Regions from separate parts of the Homo sapiens genome. Here region 1 is linked to region 2. The links come from fine-mapping of genetic effects on gene expression. A gene starts in region 2. The other region holds a variant in brackets. All regions are shown on one strand. Distances are between the middles of the regions.

The links. PIP is the estimated chance that this variant, and not a neighbour inherited with it, causes the effect.
Region 1: its variant is fine-mapped to the expression of SLC39A13 in whole blood (TOPMed, PIP 0.95).

The regions. Positions count from the first base shown.
Region 1 is chr11:47,547,948-47,556,274 of GRCh38, forward strand. It overlaps CELF1 (CUGBP Elav-like family member 1), which reads right to left and starts at 5,185. Exons shown (of 15, transcript NM_001376376.1): 1 at 5,045-5,185. RefSeq lists enhancers at 3,397-4,072, 4,748-5,423 and silencers at 4,771-4,860, 4,931-5,460. The variant C/G (reference allele first, on the strand shown) is at 4,582.
Region 2 is chr11:47,403,557-47,411,883 of GRCh38, forward strand. SLC39A13 (solute carrier family 39 member 13) reads left to right here and starts at 5,034. Exons shown (of 10, transcript NM_001128225.3): 1 at 5,034-5,106; 2 at 6,531-6,839. The coding sequence starts at 6,539. It overlaps SLC39A13-AS1 (SLC39A13 antisense RNA 1), which reads right to left and starts at 5,726. Exons shown (of 4, transcript NR_182308.1): 1 at 5,396-5,726; 2 at 1,954-1,991. RefSeq lists enhancers at 4,316-5,138, 5,427-6,293, 6,294-7,158 and a silencer at 4,547-5,336.

The DNA.
Region 1 (8,327 bases), 140 kb after region 2:
ACAGTGATGATTGCACAACACCTCAATGTAACTAATGTCACTGAATTATACACTTAAAAATGGTTAAAACGGGCCGGGCACGGTGGCTCAAGCCTGTAATCCCAACACTTTGGGAGGCTGAGGCAGGTGGATCACGAGGTCTGGAGTTCAAGACCAGCCTGGCCAAGATGGTGAAACCCCGTCTCTACTAAAAATACAAAAATTAGCCAGGCACAGTGGCAGGAACCTGTAATCCCAGCTACTCGGGAGGCTGAGGTAGGAGAATCGCTTGAACCAGGGCGACAGAGATTGCAGTGAGCCAAGATCGAGTCACTGCACTCTAGGCTGGGTGACAGAGTGAGACTCCGTCTCAAAAAAAAAGGTTAAAACAACCTAAATGTAAGACCTAAAACTATAAAACTCCTAGAAGAAAATATAGAGGAAAAACTTCATGATATTGGATTTGACAATGATTTCATGGATATGACACCAAGTGCGCAGGCAACAAAACCAGAAATAAACAAATGGGACTATATCGAACATGAAATATTTTGTGTATCAAAGCATACAATCGACAAAGTGAAAGACAAATTACAGAATGGGAGAAAATATCTGCAAATCATCTATCTAATAAGGGGTTAATATCCAGAAAATAGAGGCTGGGTGCGGTGGCTCACATCTGTAATCCCAGTACTTTGGGAGGTCGAGGCGGGCGGATCACCTGAGGTTGGGAGTTCGAGACCAGCCTGGCCAACATGGTGAAACTCCCTCTCTACTAAAAATACAAAAATTAGCCGGGCGTGGTAGCGCATGACTGTAGTCCCAGCTACTCAGGAGGCCAAGGCAGGAGAATGGCTTGAACCCAGTGGGCGGAAGTTGCAGTGAGCAGAGATCACACCACTGCACTCCAGCCTGGGCAACAGAGCAAGACTCCATCTCAAAAAAAAAAAAAAAAAAAATCCAGAAAATATAAAGAACTTCTATAATTCAACAATACAAAATCAAAAAACTTGATTAAAAACTGGGAAATGGCCTTGAACAGACATTTCTCCAAAGATAATATATAAATGGCCAACAAGCATATGAAAAGATGCTCAACATCACTAGTCAGCAGAGAAATACAAATCAAAACTACCACAGTGAGGTATCTCACACCCATTAAGATGGCCATGAAAAAATAAAAAGTATTGTCAAGGATGTAGAGAAACTGGAACCCTTGTGTACTACTGGCAAGACTGTAAAATGGTGCAACTGCTATAGAAAAAAGTATAGGGGTTCTTCAAAAAACAAACAAACAAATAAAAAAACACTATTCCAGTGGCCTAGATTCTTTCAAAATAATAAAAATTAAAAACAGAATTATCACTTGATCCAGCAATCCCACTTTGGGGTATATATCCAAAACAACTGATATTGTTCCAGAGGCTGGAATACCTATTTGCACACCTAGTCACATTAGCACTATTCACAATAGCCAAGAGGTAGCTGCAACCCAAAAGTCCATTAGTGGATGCAGTCCATAAACAATATGATATATATATATACACAATGGAGTATTAGCCTTAAAAAGGAAATAAATCCGGTCACACAGTACAACATGGATGAGTCTTGAGGACATTACACTAAGTGAAATAAGTCTGTCACAAAAAACAGACATGGTATGATTCCACTTACATGATGTTATCTAAAGTAGTCAAATTGGTAGAAACAGAAATAATGGTGGTTACCAGGGGCTAGTAGGAGGGGGAAAAGGGGAGCTGTTGTCCAACAGGCATAGAGTTTCAGATACGCAAGATGAAAAACTCACAGATCTGTTTTCCAACAGTGCGAATGTACTTAATGTCACAGAACACTTAAAAATGGCTAAGTTAGTAAATGTTGTGGGTTTTTTTTGTTTTTTTTTTTTCTGAGACAGAGTCTTGCCTTGTTGCCCAGGCTGGAGTGCAGTGGTGCAATCTCAGCTCACTGCAACCTCCACCTCCTGGGCTCAAGGGATTCTCCTGCCTCAGCCTCCCAAGTAGCTGGGACTACAGGCACATGCCACCACACCTGGTTAATTTCTGTATTTTTAGTGGAGATGGGGTTTGACCATATTGGCCAGGCTGGTCTCGAACTCCTGACCTCGTGATCCGCCCACCTCAGCCTCCCAAAGTGCTGGGATTACAGGTGTGAGCCACTGCGCCCAGCCAATTTTGTGTTTTTAACCACAATTTTAAAATGTAGGCCAGGCTCAGTGGCTCACATCTGTAATCCGAAGTTCAAAACCAGCCTGGGCAAAACAGTGACACCCTGTCTCTACAAAAACAAACAAACAAAAAAAAACACCGGGTACGGTGGCTTACACCTATAATCCTAGTACTTTGGGAGGCTGAGGTGGGCAGATCACCTGAGGTCAGGAGTTCTAGATCGGCCTGGCCAACATGGTGAAACCCCATCTCTACTAAAAATACAAAAACCCTCTGGGCGCAGTGGTGGGCGCCTGTAATCACAGCTACTCGGGAGGCTGAGGCAGGAGAACTGCTTGAGCCCGGGGGACAGGGTGTGCAGTGAGCACTCCAGTATGGTTGACAGAGCAAGACTCCATGGCGGGGTTGGGGGGGACCGGACCCACATCACAAAACTGTGACTAAGATAAGCCTATTTTGGGAAGATAGGCATTTCTATAGCATATGAAAAGGATGGGCAAGATAAAGACCCAATATTTAACAATCATCTCTGAGTGGTGGCACTATGGGTGAGTTTCTTCATTTTTTGACTTACCTGTTTTTTTTTTATAGTGAATCTGTAACTTCTGTATTAAGAAAAATACACGGAAGTCTTTAGAAAAAAATCATTTTGGCTAAAAACTTCACTGTCTGCCTATTACATCATGGGTATTTCACCATGTTACTGAAGCTGAACTAATACCATGTGAGACAGATGCTGTTTCTTTCATTTTGCAGGTGCGAATAAACTGAGGAGCAGAACAGTTGAGTGACTTGCCAAGGTTGTGTAACCAGTAAATGACAGAGCAAGCATTACAATCCAGGCCTAGTTCTAACTTCAATTCAGGGTCCTTTCCCATTTCATTACACCTCAAAGGGAAGATTGCATTATTACTCGTGATATTGTTTAAAAAAAAAAAAAACATAACCTTGGGCAAGTAAGTCACTTAATTTCTAGGGCCCTCAGTTTCCTCATCCAAAAAGTGAAGGGGTTCTAGAAAAGATATTCCATCTCTAACAGCCCCTCTTGCTACCAGATCTTAAGTCTAGATAGCACAATCTCTAAAGAAAACCCTGGGTTTTCTTTAAAGGGGTCAGAATGAATGGTTGAATAGAAGTTGAGGCCTGTGATCTGGGCCAAAGGCCATTCTTAATGGAAACAGGTGGTGGACTGTCATGAGGAAAGAACCACTAGGGGAACCATAACCTTCCTGGTTAAAGCAACAACTGAAAGCTCCAGCTTTGCTTTACCAACAGTGCTGCTTCAATCTTGGCTAACTCATGATCAGAAACCACATACTAGGTAAGTAAAGCCTGAAGAATATAAAAATTAACATGAGAAGAAAATCACTGTAGCAACAGTTTGTGCATGCTATTGTAATTCCATGATTTTCTAAGTGGACTCTTTAATGCTAAAACAGAAAGGGTGATTCTATATTGAGACGCCTTCATTCTCACCAAGGATTAATAGAGAGGCTGAAACTTCCAAAGCGCTTGGAGAGAAGCTACACTTGTGGGCAAGGGGAAAGCATCCAATTAAAGCCTTCCCAATTCATGGGTAATCAAAGACAGTGAAAAGAACTTTAAAAGGTGAAGTTCCGGGCGGGGGCGGTGGCTCACGCCTGTAATCCCCAGCACTCTGGGAGGTCGAGGCGGGTGGATCACCCGAGGTCAGGAGTTCGAGACCATCCAGCCTGATCAACATGGTGAAACCCCGTCTATACTAAAAATACGAAAATTAGCCAGGCCTGGTGGCACATGCCTGTAATCCCAGCTACTTGGGAGGCTGAGGCAGGAGAATTGCTTGAACCTGGGGAGGTTGCAGTGAGCCGAGATAGCGCCACTGCACTCCAGCCTAAGCAACAAGAGCGAAACTCCGTCTTAAAAAAAAAAAAAAAAAAGATGAAGTTCTTGTAAAAGATTCATTATTTGTAACCTCTTACACTGCACACATTATAAAGCATTTCATGCTCTTTAAAACTGTTATACAGCCTTTTTACTCGAAGGTAATAAACCTACAGCTCTCTCCTGGCGAGAAAGAGATTCCATTTTGCGGAAACAGATTCCAGTCAAAATCTTACCACATTCCCCTCAACTATGGGTATGAGCCTAAACCAATGAGAAGCTCCTTGGTGCATGTGTAATGGTCTCCAAGAATTACAACAACATCCTACCCGGAGGACCACAACCACGACACCACTGGCTTTAAAATCAAAGCCTGGTCCCTAGCGAAGAAAGCGCTTTAATGTGCTCCTCCCGCTCCCGGGTGCGAGATTCCTGCCCAGCTACTAGGCCACGACTGGGTGAGCACCTGATGTGGGGGGAGGGCGAGCCAAGGCCGTAGCGGATCTGGGGCGAGGAACGAGGGGCTCTCGAGGCTCGGGAAAAGCGCTGCCTT[C/G]TAGGGGCGCGGACCCTTCGGCACCCACAGGAGTGGACACTAAGAACACGTGAGACGACAGGGGCAGAGATGGGGTGTCCCGGGCAGGTAGCCTGGGTCCAGCACGGCAGCCAGAAAGACGAGGAAAACGGAGCTGGCCCTGGGCAGGGCACGAGGCCTCTGAGCCTAGAGAGTGAAGGTAAAGGGCGCGGGGAGAGGAAGCAAAGCCACGAGGAGGGCGGGTCTCCCTGGGCGCGGGGGCACGCGCTGGGCAAACGCGACAGGACCCGGGGAGCCGGGGACCCCGACATGCAGGAGGAGATCGCAGCCCTACCCCAGGACGCAGGGAACGAGAAAAGGCCGCGCCCGGAGGGCCCTGTGACCCGCGGCCTCCCTAACCGGACCCGCCCCGCGGCGCCTCCCTCTTGCCTTTTTTCCCCTCCCTCCCTCCCGCGGCCCGTTATCCTGCGGCCGCAGCACTCACCAGCGGCTGCACCTGAGCCTGCCGCTGCCTCAGTTGCTGCCTGCGCCTCCGCAGCCGCCGCCGCCGCCTCGCTGCTGAGGCCGAATCCCGGGGGAGCCTCCGCGTCCCGCCGCCGCTGCCGCTGCCGCCAGAGCAGAACACCCCAAAATGGCGGCACTTCCGGCACCTACCACCGGCGGGGAGGGCAGAGGAGGAGGGGGAGCGCGGCGAGGGGGAACGTATCACCGCGGCGCCGCCCGCAGCGCCGATGCGAGCGGAGCGCGGCGTAGGGGCGGGCCGAGCGCCGGGCGCTGCAGCGCCCCCTCGGGCTGGGAAGTGGAGGAGCAGCCGCACCTAAGCCCCTGGGGCCGCGGGCGGAGCCCTCAACCTAGGGAGCTGCAGGGGCGCATCTCTTTGTCTCCGATCCCTACTGGAGGGAAGAGCCAGGCCTGGGAATCTGAAGTTCTCGACTCCGCCCATCGCACCCACAGGAGCTCTAGATGACCCTGGTGGGCAAGGAGGCACCCCTACTGGGCACTGAATAGGAGCATAATAAGATATTTGTTGAATAAATGGATGAGTGAGTGACTGGTGCTTGGCCAGCGTTGGGCACATGGCACGCCCCTTTTTGCCCCAGCAGACAAGCAACAGCATCCAGGCCTTCCTTCTTTGCTGGGATGTGAATATGTGTGTTCCAAGTGCAGGGAGTGCTTTTTAGCAAGATAATCAGTGTGAACGCACAACCTGGCAACGATCGCTGCGACATAAGGAAGTTCACAAAGATTCTATTAAGAGACCGATTGCCCAGCCATAACCTGCTTTTACCGAAAAAAAAATATATATATATATTTTTTTTTCTTAACTCAGGTTAGGTCTCTAAAGACTTCCTCCTGAGTTACTCTGGAATCCCTGGGTCTAGATGGAACGCAAGCAGTACAATTTGTTGTTGTTGTTGTTGTTGTTTAAGCCAACATTTATTCCTAGGTTCCAGACCTTGTGAGGCAGTTAAATGCAGATTAAGAAAGAAAACTTTGTTCTGGAAGCTTTTGGCCCCATCAACATGCAAATAACTCATGGGATGGTTTCTCTCTAACATCATCTGGCTTCCCAGAGAATATAATTTTTATACCCACAAATACTGATTATATCCTACCTTACCACAAACAACAAGTGGGCTTCCAAGCAGAAGCCTCAAGGGTTTTCCTCTTTCGCCTTTGGGGGGGAAAAAAACTAACCAGAGTTTTTCTGGTACCATATAGTCCTTAAATTGTACATGATCATATTCCCTAATTGTACTGGGTAGTTTTATATACATTCATAATGCTGATATATGATCTTGTTCTTGTTAATAGTTTTATGTGTAGTTGACTGAAAACATCCTATATTTATAGACCATTATAGCTTACAGAATGTTGTCACAAATATTACCATATATTTGCTGCTATAGGTTGTAGAAATGTTTCAAGCAGAGAGTCTGTCTCCTTTTGTGCTCCATAGAATCATGTGGATATCCACATGGCTCACTTCCTCACCTCCTTCAGACTTTGACTTAAGTGTCACCTTCTCAGTCCAGTCTTCCCTAAGCACTCTATTTTACACTGCTTGCATGCATGGCATGTGCACACACACACACACCCATGCTTTCAATCCCACTTTCATTTTTATCCAAAACATTTATCATTATCTAACACAGTTTTTTTTTTTTTTTGAGACGGAGTCTAGCTCTTGTCACCCAGGCTGGAGTGCAGTGGCGCGATCTCGGCTCACTGCAACCTCCACCTCCCAGGTTCAAGCAATTCTCCTGCCTCAGCCTCCCGAGTAGCTGGGATTACAGGCGCGTGCCACGATGCCTGACTAATTTTTGTATTTTTAGTGGAGACGGGGTTTCAACCCCTGTTGGTCAGGCTGGTCTCAAACTCCTGACTGCAAGTGTTCTGCCCGCCTCTGCCTCTCAAAGTGCTGGGATTACAGGCGTGAGCCACTGCACCCGGCCTCACAGTATATTTTGTATTTATATATTTTACTTGTTTTATTGACAGTAGCCCAGAAGGTAAACCAAAGGTAAACTTCATGAGGATAGAGGTTTTGTCTGTTTTATTTCACTGCTCTATCCTCAGGGCCTTGATAATGCCTAATCCATAGTACATGCTCAATAAATATTGTTGACTTACTGAATAGGTATATCTAGGTGCCAGATATGGAAAACAAAATGTTGCGCCTTTAGAAGCTTCTTGGAACCTGCCCATGAGCTAAATAAGGAAAGGCACCATGCCCGTCTTATTATATCTCCAGTGCTTTTCACAATATCTGACTCAATAGATATTTCTTGAAGAGCAAACAGAAACTCTTCCATGCCCATCTTGTTATTCTCCTAATATCTCCATTGCTTTTCACTGTATCTAACTCGATAAACTTCTTGAAGAGCAACCAGAAGCTTTTTCCTATTCTATCTGTGCCTTGACTTAGGGCTCCCATTTGCAAGGGAGGAACTTGTAAGGTATTAATATCACTCTTGCATTTAGTTACCAAGGAAGGCCACAGACTGTTAGCCCAAGGTTGGGGGGAAGAACAATTACATGAAGAACACAAATAGATCTTGTAACTTCAAAGGGTTTCAGCAACATAGACAAAATGCTAAACAGTCCAAATACAAAAAAAGCCTAGTGTGAGATTTAAGAGTATGTAAAGCTTCCTGTTTCATGTTTTGCCTTACAAATAGATTAAGATTTATTTTTTTTAAAAAATAGCCAATGTCGGCCAGGCGCGGTAGCTCATGCCTGTAATCCTAGCACTTTGGGAGGCCGAGGCAGATGGATCACCTGAGGTCAGGAGTTCAAGACCAACCTGGTGAAACCCTGTTTCTACTAAAAAATACAAACGTTAGCCAGGCATGATGGCGGGTGCCTGTAATCCCAGCTACTCGGGAGGCTGAGATGGCAGAATAGCTTGAACTTGGGAGACGGTGGTTGCAGTGAGTCGAGATCGAACCACTGCACTCCAGCCTGGGCGACACAGCAAGACTCTGTCTCAAAAAAAAAAAAAAAAAAAAGCCAGTGTTAGTAAGAGTGCAGAGAAATAGCCTTCTCCAAGTGGTGATGGGAGTAAAGTTCAGATAATCTGCCTAGAGGAATCTAAACTTTTACATACCTTTCTAGGAATTTATCCTAAGGGAATATTCATGGATAATGGCAGAGATTGTAACATTTTTTATTTTTTTAATTTTACTTTTCTAGACACAGGGTCTTGCTCTGTCACCCAGCCTGGAGTGTAGTAGTGCTATCATAGTTCACAGCAACCTTGAACT
Region 2 (8,327 bases):
ACTCATGAGGGAGCTAAGGCTACCCTGGAAAGAAGGATTGAGAAAGGATTGGGGTCAGGGGTTTCAGAGGGGCAGGGCTCCTTTGGAGAAGCTGAACCTGTGGCCCTGGGGGAGCTGCTGTGCCTCTTTTTAGCTGTGACCCTGCGTAATGTGATTACCATCCTGAGCCCCATATGCCTTTCAATAAGAGACTGCTATCTTCCTGCTGACCCCCACGGGAGGAAGCCCTGTGACAAGGATAAGGCCAGATATCTCACTAGAGACCACACTCTGGAAGTATCCATCCCCAGCCCAAGTCTCTAGCCCTCGATTGCCAGAGTGGAGGGAAGGATGTCAAAGCATTGGCCATTGCCAGGCCAGCCAGTCTTGCAGGGGCCAGAGACAGGAACAAGGGGTTAAAGTCAGATTCTGGGCATTGCAGTGAAGTCAGAGAAATAGATCTGTGGCTCCCTGATCCCAGACACCTCTCAGCCACTTAGAGCCACGCAGTACCCAGGCCCATCCAGCTCTGCTGAAGTTTGTCCAGTGCTTCAACCCAGGAAAACCCTATGGCCTCCAAACCAACTGATAAATATGTCAGAAAACACTCATTTGTGGCTGGGTGCAGTGGCTCACGCCTGTAATCCCAACACTTTGGGAGGCCGAGGAGGGCAGATCACCTGAGGTCAAGAGTTCAAAACCAGCCTGGCCAACATGTTGAAACCCCGTCTCTACCAAAAATACAAAAATTAGCCGGGCATGGTGGTGGGTGCCTGTAGTCGGGGGGCTGAGGCATAAGAATCACGTGAACCTGGGAGGCGGAGGTTACAGTGAGCTGAGATCACACCATTGCACTCCAGCCTAGGTGACAGAGCAAGACTCCAACTCAAAAACAAAAAAACAGGCCGGGCCTGGTGGCTTACGTCTGTAGTCCCAGCACTTTGGGAGGCTGAGGCGGGCGGATCACAAGGTCAGGAGTTCAAGACCAGCCTGGCCAACATAGTGAAACCCCGTCTCTACTAAAAATAAAAAAATTAGCCGGGAGTGGTGGCGGGAGCTTGTAATCCCAGCTACTCAGGAGGCTGAGGCAGGAGAATGGCTTGAACCCGGGAGGTGGAGGCTGCAGTGAGACAAGATCGTGCCACTGCACTCCAGACTGGTGACAGAGCAAGACTCCGTCTCAAACAACAACAACAAAACAAAAAACAAAAAACAAAACAGGCCGGGAGCGGTGGCTCACACTTGTAATCCCAGCACTTTGGGAGGCGGAGGCGGGCAGATCACCAGGTCAGGAGTTCGAGACCAACATGGTGAAACCCTGTCACTACTAAAAATATAAAAAATTAGCTGGGCGTGGTGGTGAGTGCCTATAGTCCCAGCTACTCAGAAGGCTTAAGCAGAAGAATTGCTTGAACCTGGGAGGCAGAGGTTGCAGTGAGCCGAAATCGCGCCACTGAACTCCAGCCTGGGTGACGAAGCAAGACTCCATCTCAAAAAACAAAACAAAACAAAACAAAAAAACACTTTCTTATGCTTAGCAAGGAGAGAGGGTGTCCCCACTCTGTATCTTTAATGTAGCTATTCTTTATGTTGCTTTAATATTTTTATACCCATATATCCATACATATAAACAGCATTAATTTCTAGCTCTATATAAAACTTCCCATATGTCAGGCATAGTTCTAAGTGCTTTGTCTGTATTTATCCATTTAATCTTCACAACAACATCTAAGTCTAATTTCGAGATGAGGAAACTGAGGCATAAGGAGTTAAGTAATTTGTCCCAGGAAGTCTGGCATCAGAATCTTACTGTCTTGAATGGGCACAGTGGCACACGCCTATAATCCCAGTGCTTTGGGAGGCCGAGGCGAGAGGATTGCTTGAGCCCAGGAGATCGAAGCTGCAGTGAGCTGTGATCACACCACTGCACTCCAGCCTGGGTGACAGAGTTAAAAAAAAATTTGTTATATTCACCTTTTGAATTTTCTCTTCTGTTCCCTTTTATCTTCTTTCTAAACAAAACAAAACAAAGAATCGTATTGTCTTAACCACCAAGACACCAAGAGGTAAGCCAGAGAGAGAGAGAGAGAGAGAAAGACAGAGGCTAGGTGCAGTGGCTCACGCCTATAATCCCAGCACTTTGGGAGGCTGAGGCGGGTGGATCATTTGAGGTAAGGAGTTCAAGACCAGCCTGGCCAACATGGTGAAACCCTGTCTCTACTACAAAAATTGGCCGGGAAGTAGTGGCCCATGCCTATAATTCCAGCTACTTGGGAGGCTGAGGCTGGAGAATTACTTGAGCCTGGGAGGCGGAGGTTGCAGTGAACCGAGATCATGCCACTATACTCCAGTCTGGGTGACAGAGTGAGACCCTGTCTCAAAAAAAAAAAAAAAAAAAAGAGAAAGAGAAAGAGATTTTATATAGTGAGATTTTCATATATCTGAGATGAGATTTGATATATGTATACAATTTTACACATTGCATACATGTGATCATATACACCTTTTATTTATTTATTTTGAGATGGAGTTTCGCTCTTGTTGCCCAGGCTGGAGTGCAATGGCGCGATCTCGGCTCACTGCAACCTCTACCTCCCAGGTTCAAGCGATTCTCCTGCCTCAGCCTCCCGAGTAGCTGGGATTACAGGCATGCGCCACCACACCTGGCTGATCTTGTATTTTTAGTAGAGGGGGTTTCTCCATGTTGGTCAGGCTGGTCTTGAACTCCCGACCGCAGGTGATCTGCCCACCTTGGCCTCCCAAAGTGCTGGGATTACAGGCATAAGCCACCATGCCCAGCCATATATGGCCATACACATCTTTTAATGTGTTGTTTTCCTTTAACATTTTTTCCTTCCCTATTCACATTAGTTCCTCCCACCATAGAATCCATAATATCACTTTAATGTGTTATCTATGTTTTTTATGTATTCATTATACATAGACTTATATATACTGATACCTTTAATCACATACACATATACAAGGTTTCTTTTTGTCATTATTTTAAAATAGTCTCTTAAAAAATAAAAATAGTGGATCATATTAAATAAATATTTCTGCATCTCACTTTTCTCACACACCTGGAAACCCCTGCAATTTTATTAATTTGTAATTTTTTTTATTTTTTTATTTTTGAGACAGGGTCTCGCTCTGTTACCCAGACTGGAGTGCAGTGGCACGATCAGGGCTCACTGCAGCCTTGACCTCCCGGGTTCAAGCAATCCTTCCACCTCAGCCTCCTGAGTAGCTGGGGCTACAGGTGCGCACCATTACACCTGACTAATTTTAAATTTTTTTGTAGAGACCAGTTCTCAGTTTGTTACCCAGGCTGGTCTGGAACTCCTGGGCTCAAAAGATCTTCCTTCCTAGGCCTCCCAAAGTGCTGGGATTACAGATGTGAGCCACCGGGCCTTAGGTATCCGATGGGAATTCCAGGCCAGGTGGGAGGAAAGGGTAGTGCATTGGCACCAAGTAACGTTTCTGGCTGGGTCTTGCCCATCCCCTTGTTGGGTGGCCAGGAGCGCTCAGCCTCCAGAGGCAGGAATGCTGACTGTGTTATTGTGAAATCATTTGCATATTGTGAAGTGCTTTGCATAAGATGGAGCGCTTTTGCATACAGGGAGGGGGGCATTTTAGAAGTCCTAGGGCAGGATCCCTGAGTAGCTTTTCTTTGCCAAGAAACTAACCCAGGGATTCCATTTTGGAACTCAGGGAGGGAACAGAACGTCCTGGCAGTTGTATGGGCCCGGTGGGGTGAGATGGACAGAAAGCTTCAGAAGACAAGCTGGGCCACCAGGGAGAAGTTGGCGGTCTAAGGAAGGCCAACAGTGCAACATGAAGTGGGACAGGCACCAGAGGCAGCCCTGAGAGCTGAGTGTGCTCTCAAGAGCCCCAGCAGAGGGGAAAGTGACAGAGTAAATGGTTGGAGCTGCCATGGGAGGCTGATGAGGGTCAGAGACTTAAGAGACCTGTACTCAGTCGCTATCTCTGCCCAAGTGAGTACCCACATGCCCCTTCCTGAATCTTCTCCTGTACTGGCTGATTTCCAGAGAAGAATACAAACTCGAAACGCCAAGCCAGACTCCCACTGCTGTTCAGGACCTAGACGTGAGAAGTGGTATCACATACTCTGGCTTCAGGACACCCAGGTTTGAATCCTGGCTCTGCCATCTGTGCCACTGTGTGACCCTGGGCTAACAGTACCCACCACAATGGGATAATATGAGGATTCAGTGAGATAGTGCGAGTAAAGTGAATAGCACATAGTAGGTGGTCAGTAAATTGCGGTTATAAGAACTGCTATCCAGTGTTTGCTGCCTTAGTCTAACCAAAGAGGTCAGGTCTAGCTTCCTCCAGGTGAGGGAAGCACAGAGCCCTCGCCTCCCAGGTTTGGAGTTCCCATCAGCAGGGTCCAGCCACCATGCATTGGACCCCAAAGGGTTACAAGCCCTGGAGACAGTGGCCTGAGGTTCCCAGTGAAAAACCAAAGCATAAAAATAATTCGATGAGTAAGAATAAAATTCCCTCTTCTGAGGTTCCCGGGGCCAGGCCCCTCCCTGCGGCAGGCACTTCCCCTTTCCCTTGCTCATGGAGGAGCCAGGCCGGGCTGACTCAGAGCAGGAGCGCACAGTAGTCCTCCCAGCCCGACCTGGGCGGCGTGGTCTGGCGGCCGGGCGCGCCCCCGTGCGGCCACGGGCAGACTGCGGCCCTGGACGGGAAGCGGCGGCCAGATCCGCAAGCCCCGCAGCCTGGTCGATCGCGGTCCCCGCAGAGCCGCCGCTTCCGTCCCTGCCCAGCCTGGCTGAGCGCGGTGCGTGTGGCTCTCTCACTTCCGACCGACCCTCCCCTCCGGCCCGCAGCCCTGCCCAAACGGAAGTGCGCCCTCTACCCGGGTCCCCCACCGCCGCGAGGCGGAAGCGCCCTCCCGCCGCCACTCCCCCCGACCCCGCGGCACGCGGCGCCTCGGGTTCCGGACAGGCCCCTTGTGACGTGGCCGCGCGCCGGGGGCGGCCCCGGGCCGGGGGCCGGGCGGCCGGGCGGCCGGGCGGGGCAGAGCCTGGGCGGGGCGCGGCACCGCAGCTGGATGGCTGGGGCCGCCCGGATCGCCGCCGCCGCCGCCGCACGGTGAGTGCCAGCAGGACCCTCGGGGCCCGCGCCCCGGGCGTGATGGACCCGGCCGATCCCTCGCCCCGTCCGACTGGTCCTCATCAGACCTGGGCCGGCTCCCAGGACCCGGGAGTCAGGCTCGCCCGCTTCGGCCTCCTCTCCCCCATCGCTCCGCGCCCCACGCCCCATCCCTCCCTCGCTGTCCTCTCCGCGTCCCACCCGCCTCTCTCTAGCTCTCTCACTCTCTACTTTCCTCTCCCCTTGGACTCTCCGTGTATTCCCTCCCGCTAGCCTGTGGTCCCCTCACCTCTGCGTGACCGCCTCGTCCTGGCCCAGTCTTGCCTGTGGTCCCCAGTGGAGCCCCGCTGGCTTCATCAGTGCCCCTGATTAGTTAAGGCCTGGAGGTCCTAGACATGGGCATCTCTGCCACCACCCAGAGGCAGCTGCTTTCTTCCCCTCCCATCTCCATCAGAAGGTGAGGAAACTGAGGCAGGGACATCACCAGCTCAAGGTCACAGCCAGCCTGAGGCAGAGCAGACCACATTTAAACCTCATGCCCGAGTTTCCAGATGGAACTTCTCGCTTGGTTGACTCACGTCCACATCCTGTGATCGGCCGGCTGGGCACATTCCTGCTGCAGGGAGCCCCAGGCCTTCCCTGGCACAGGCAGGGCCTCTGCGCCTCCTCATGCCGGGTACATCCACCTGCACTTTCAGGCTTATCTCGTCCTCACAGCTGAGGCAGGTGATATTGATCCCTGTCCTGCAGATGAGGGCACTGAGGCTCAGAGGGGGGGCTTCAGAGATTTGCCCAGAGTTAGACAGCTCAAAGTGCAGCATAGAATTCACCGTGGGGGCTCTAAAGCCTGCGCTATACAAGAGAGAGGCATCCCCTGGCTAAAGGCTCCTTCCTCATCAGCCCCATCTCCTGTTGCCCTCAGTGCCCTGGGGACATTGGTCTCATGTCCTAGGAAGAAGCGTGGATGGTCTTGCCCTGGCTCATCTGCTCAGTTTCCCCACGTATGTCTCTCTGAATCCACCCCATCCCCTTAGAAGGGGTGCCTCAGTCTCTGGGGTGTCGCGGGCGGCAGGGCCTCCCCTGGCAGCCAGAGACACCCAGCTGGGCCGGGCCGTGCCGCCGGTGGCTGAGGAGAGCCAGCCAGCGCCTCACCCTGTCATTAGGGAAAGTTTAGCCTCAGGCGGAGGTGCTGACACAGTCTGGAGCTGCTCAGAAGGAAAAAATACGCAGTGCTCAGGAGTAGGGTGTGGAGACACAGGGCCCCATTGCTGTGCACCCAGCATTTGGATGCTCAGACGCTCTGGCAAGGACAGCAGGAGGGTGGATGCCAGGGTCCCTTGCGGGGAGGAGGGAGGCGCCACGTTTCCTAAGCAGGTGTGCGGCCAAGGCTGTAGCTCATATAGGTGGCCTTTTGTGTTTTTCAGTACGTGGCATGCCTGGATGTCCCTGCCCTGGCTGTGGCATGGCGGGCCCAAGGCTCCTCTTCCTCACTGCCCTTGCCCTGGAGCTCTTGGAAAGGGCTGGGGGTTCCCAGCCGGCCCTCCGGAGCCGGGGGACTGCGACGGCCTGTCGCCTGGACAACAAGGAAAGCGAGTCCTGGGGGGCTCTGCTGAGCGGAGAGCGGCTGGACACCTGGATCTGCTCCCTCCTGGGTTCCCTCATGGTGGGGCTCAGTGGGGTCTTCCCGTTGCTTGTCATTCCCCTAGAGATGGGGACCATGCTGCGCTCAGAAGGTAGGTGACTCTCCGGTGGCGCCCAGGGCTGGCCAGGGTGTGGGAAGCATGCTGCTGCTCTTCTTAGGAGACCCCAGGTCACAGAGTGTCTGAGATGGAGGGAGAGGATAGAATAGAACTTCTCCCCTTGGTCCTGTAGGAGCTATCTAGCCAGGGGCGGCTGGCTCTGGCTTCCCCAGGAAGCTATGAGCACCTGGTAGCAGGGCCTGCCCCTGGGGAGGGGGTCTAGGAGATGGGGATGTGGGCACGGGTGGGAGCTTTGTCCTGACTACCCTTTTGTACCATGAGCATGTACTGCCCGTTCACAAATAACATGTTGTAACAAAACACGCAGGAGAGCTCTAGGGAGCTGCTAAGAATGCACGTGCCTATCCCCCACCTAAGAGGGGTGGACCAAGGCCCTGGGAATCTGTTAGAAACGAGCATCCCAGGGGCTGGTGCTGCCAGCTGGATGCTCAGGAACCATTCACTTACCAGATGGTTACCCAGCAGCTCTGTGCCAGGCACTGGGCTGAGGGCGGTGCCACAGCTGTGAATAGAGCCCTGCTTGGGCCATGGTCAGGCCTGTGCTCAACCCTCAGAGCAGCCCTGCGGGGTCAGTGCAGGGAGCACCTGGATTATTAGTTCCATTTTACAAGTGGGGATGCACAGGCACAGAGAGGTTCTTTGACCAGTCCAAGGTCACCCAGCCAGGAAATAGCAGTTTCCCCTGGGATCCCACCCCAAACCCAGCTGCCTCTGTCCTCTAGGCCTCAGTTTCTCTATCAAGCCAAAGGGTTGGACATGGCTTTCAGGCAGGCGACTTCCAACCCTGGATGCTGCAAGTCCCCAAATCTCTGCCACTTTTCTGAGAGTGACAGCAGCTGAGAAGAGAAAAATTCCCACGTAATGAGCACTTGCTGTACATATTGTCATTTAATTCCCATAAGAGCCCATAAAAGGCTCACAGCTGTAATCTCAGCAGTTTGGGAGGCTGAGGTGGGCAGATCACCTGAGGTCAGGAGTTCGAGACCAGCCTGGCCAACATGATGAAACCCCGTCTCTACCAAAAATACAAAAATTAGCCGGATGTGGTGGCACACACCTGTAATCCCAGCTACTCAGGAGGCTGAGGCAGGAGAGTCGCTTGAACCTGGGAGATGGAGGTTGCAGTGAACCAAGATCACGCCACTGCACTCCAGCCTGGGCAACAGAGCGAGACTCCATCTCAAAACAAAACAAGATAAAATAATAATTCCCATAAGACCCAATTTACAGATGGAGAAACCGAGTCTCCAAAGTCATCTGCCAAGGTCACCAGCTAGTGGGTTGGGAGCTGGGACCTGTCAGCTCTTCACCATGACATGGTGGTGGCCCTGTGGGCATTTGGCAGGGTGTGGTGTTTCTGCTGTGAGGTGGGGGACCCAGGAAGAGCAGCCACCCATATCCAGCCTTGCAGGCCCAGAAAGAGCCCAGTGAGTGGGGTGGGATGAAGGTCAGGCCAGGAGC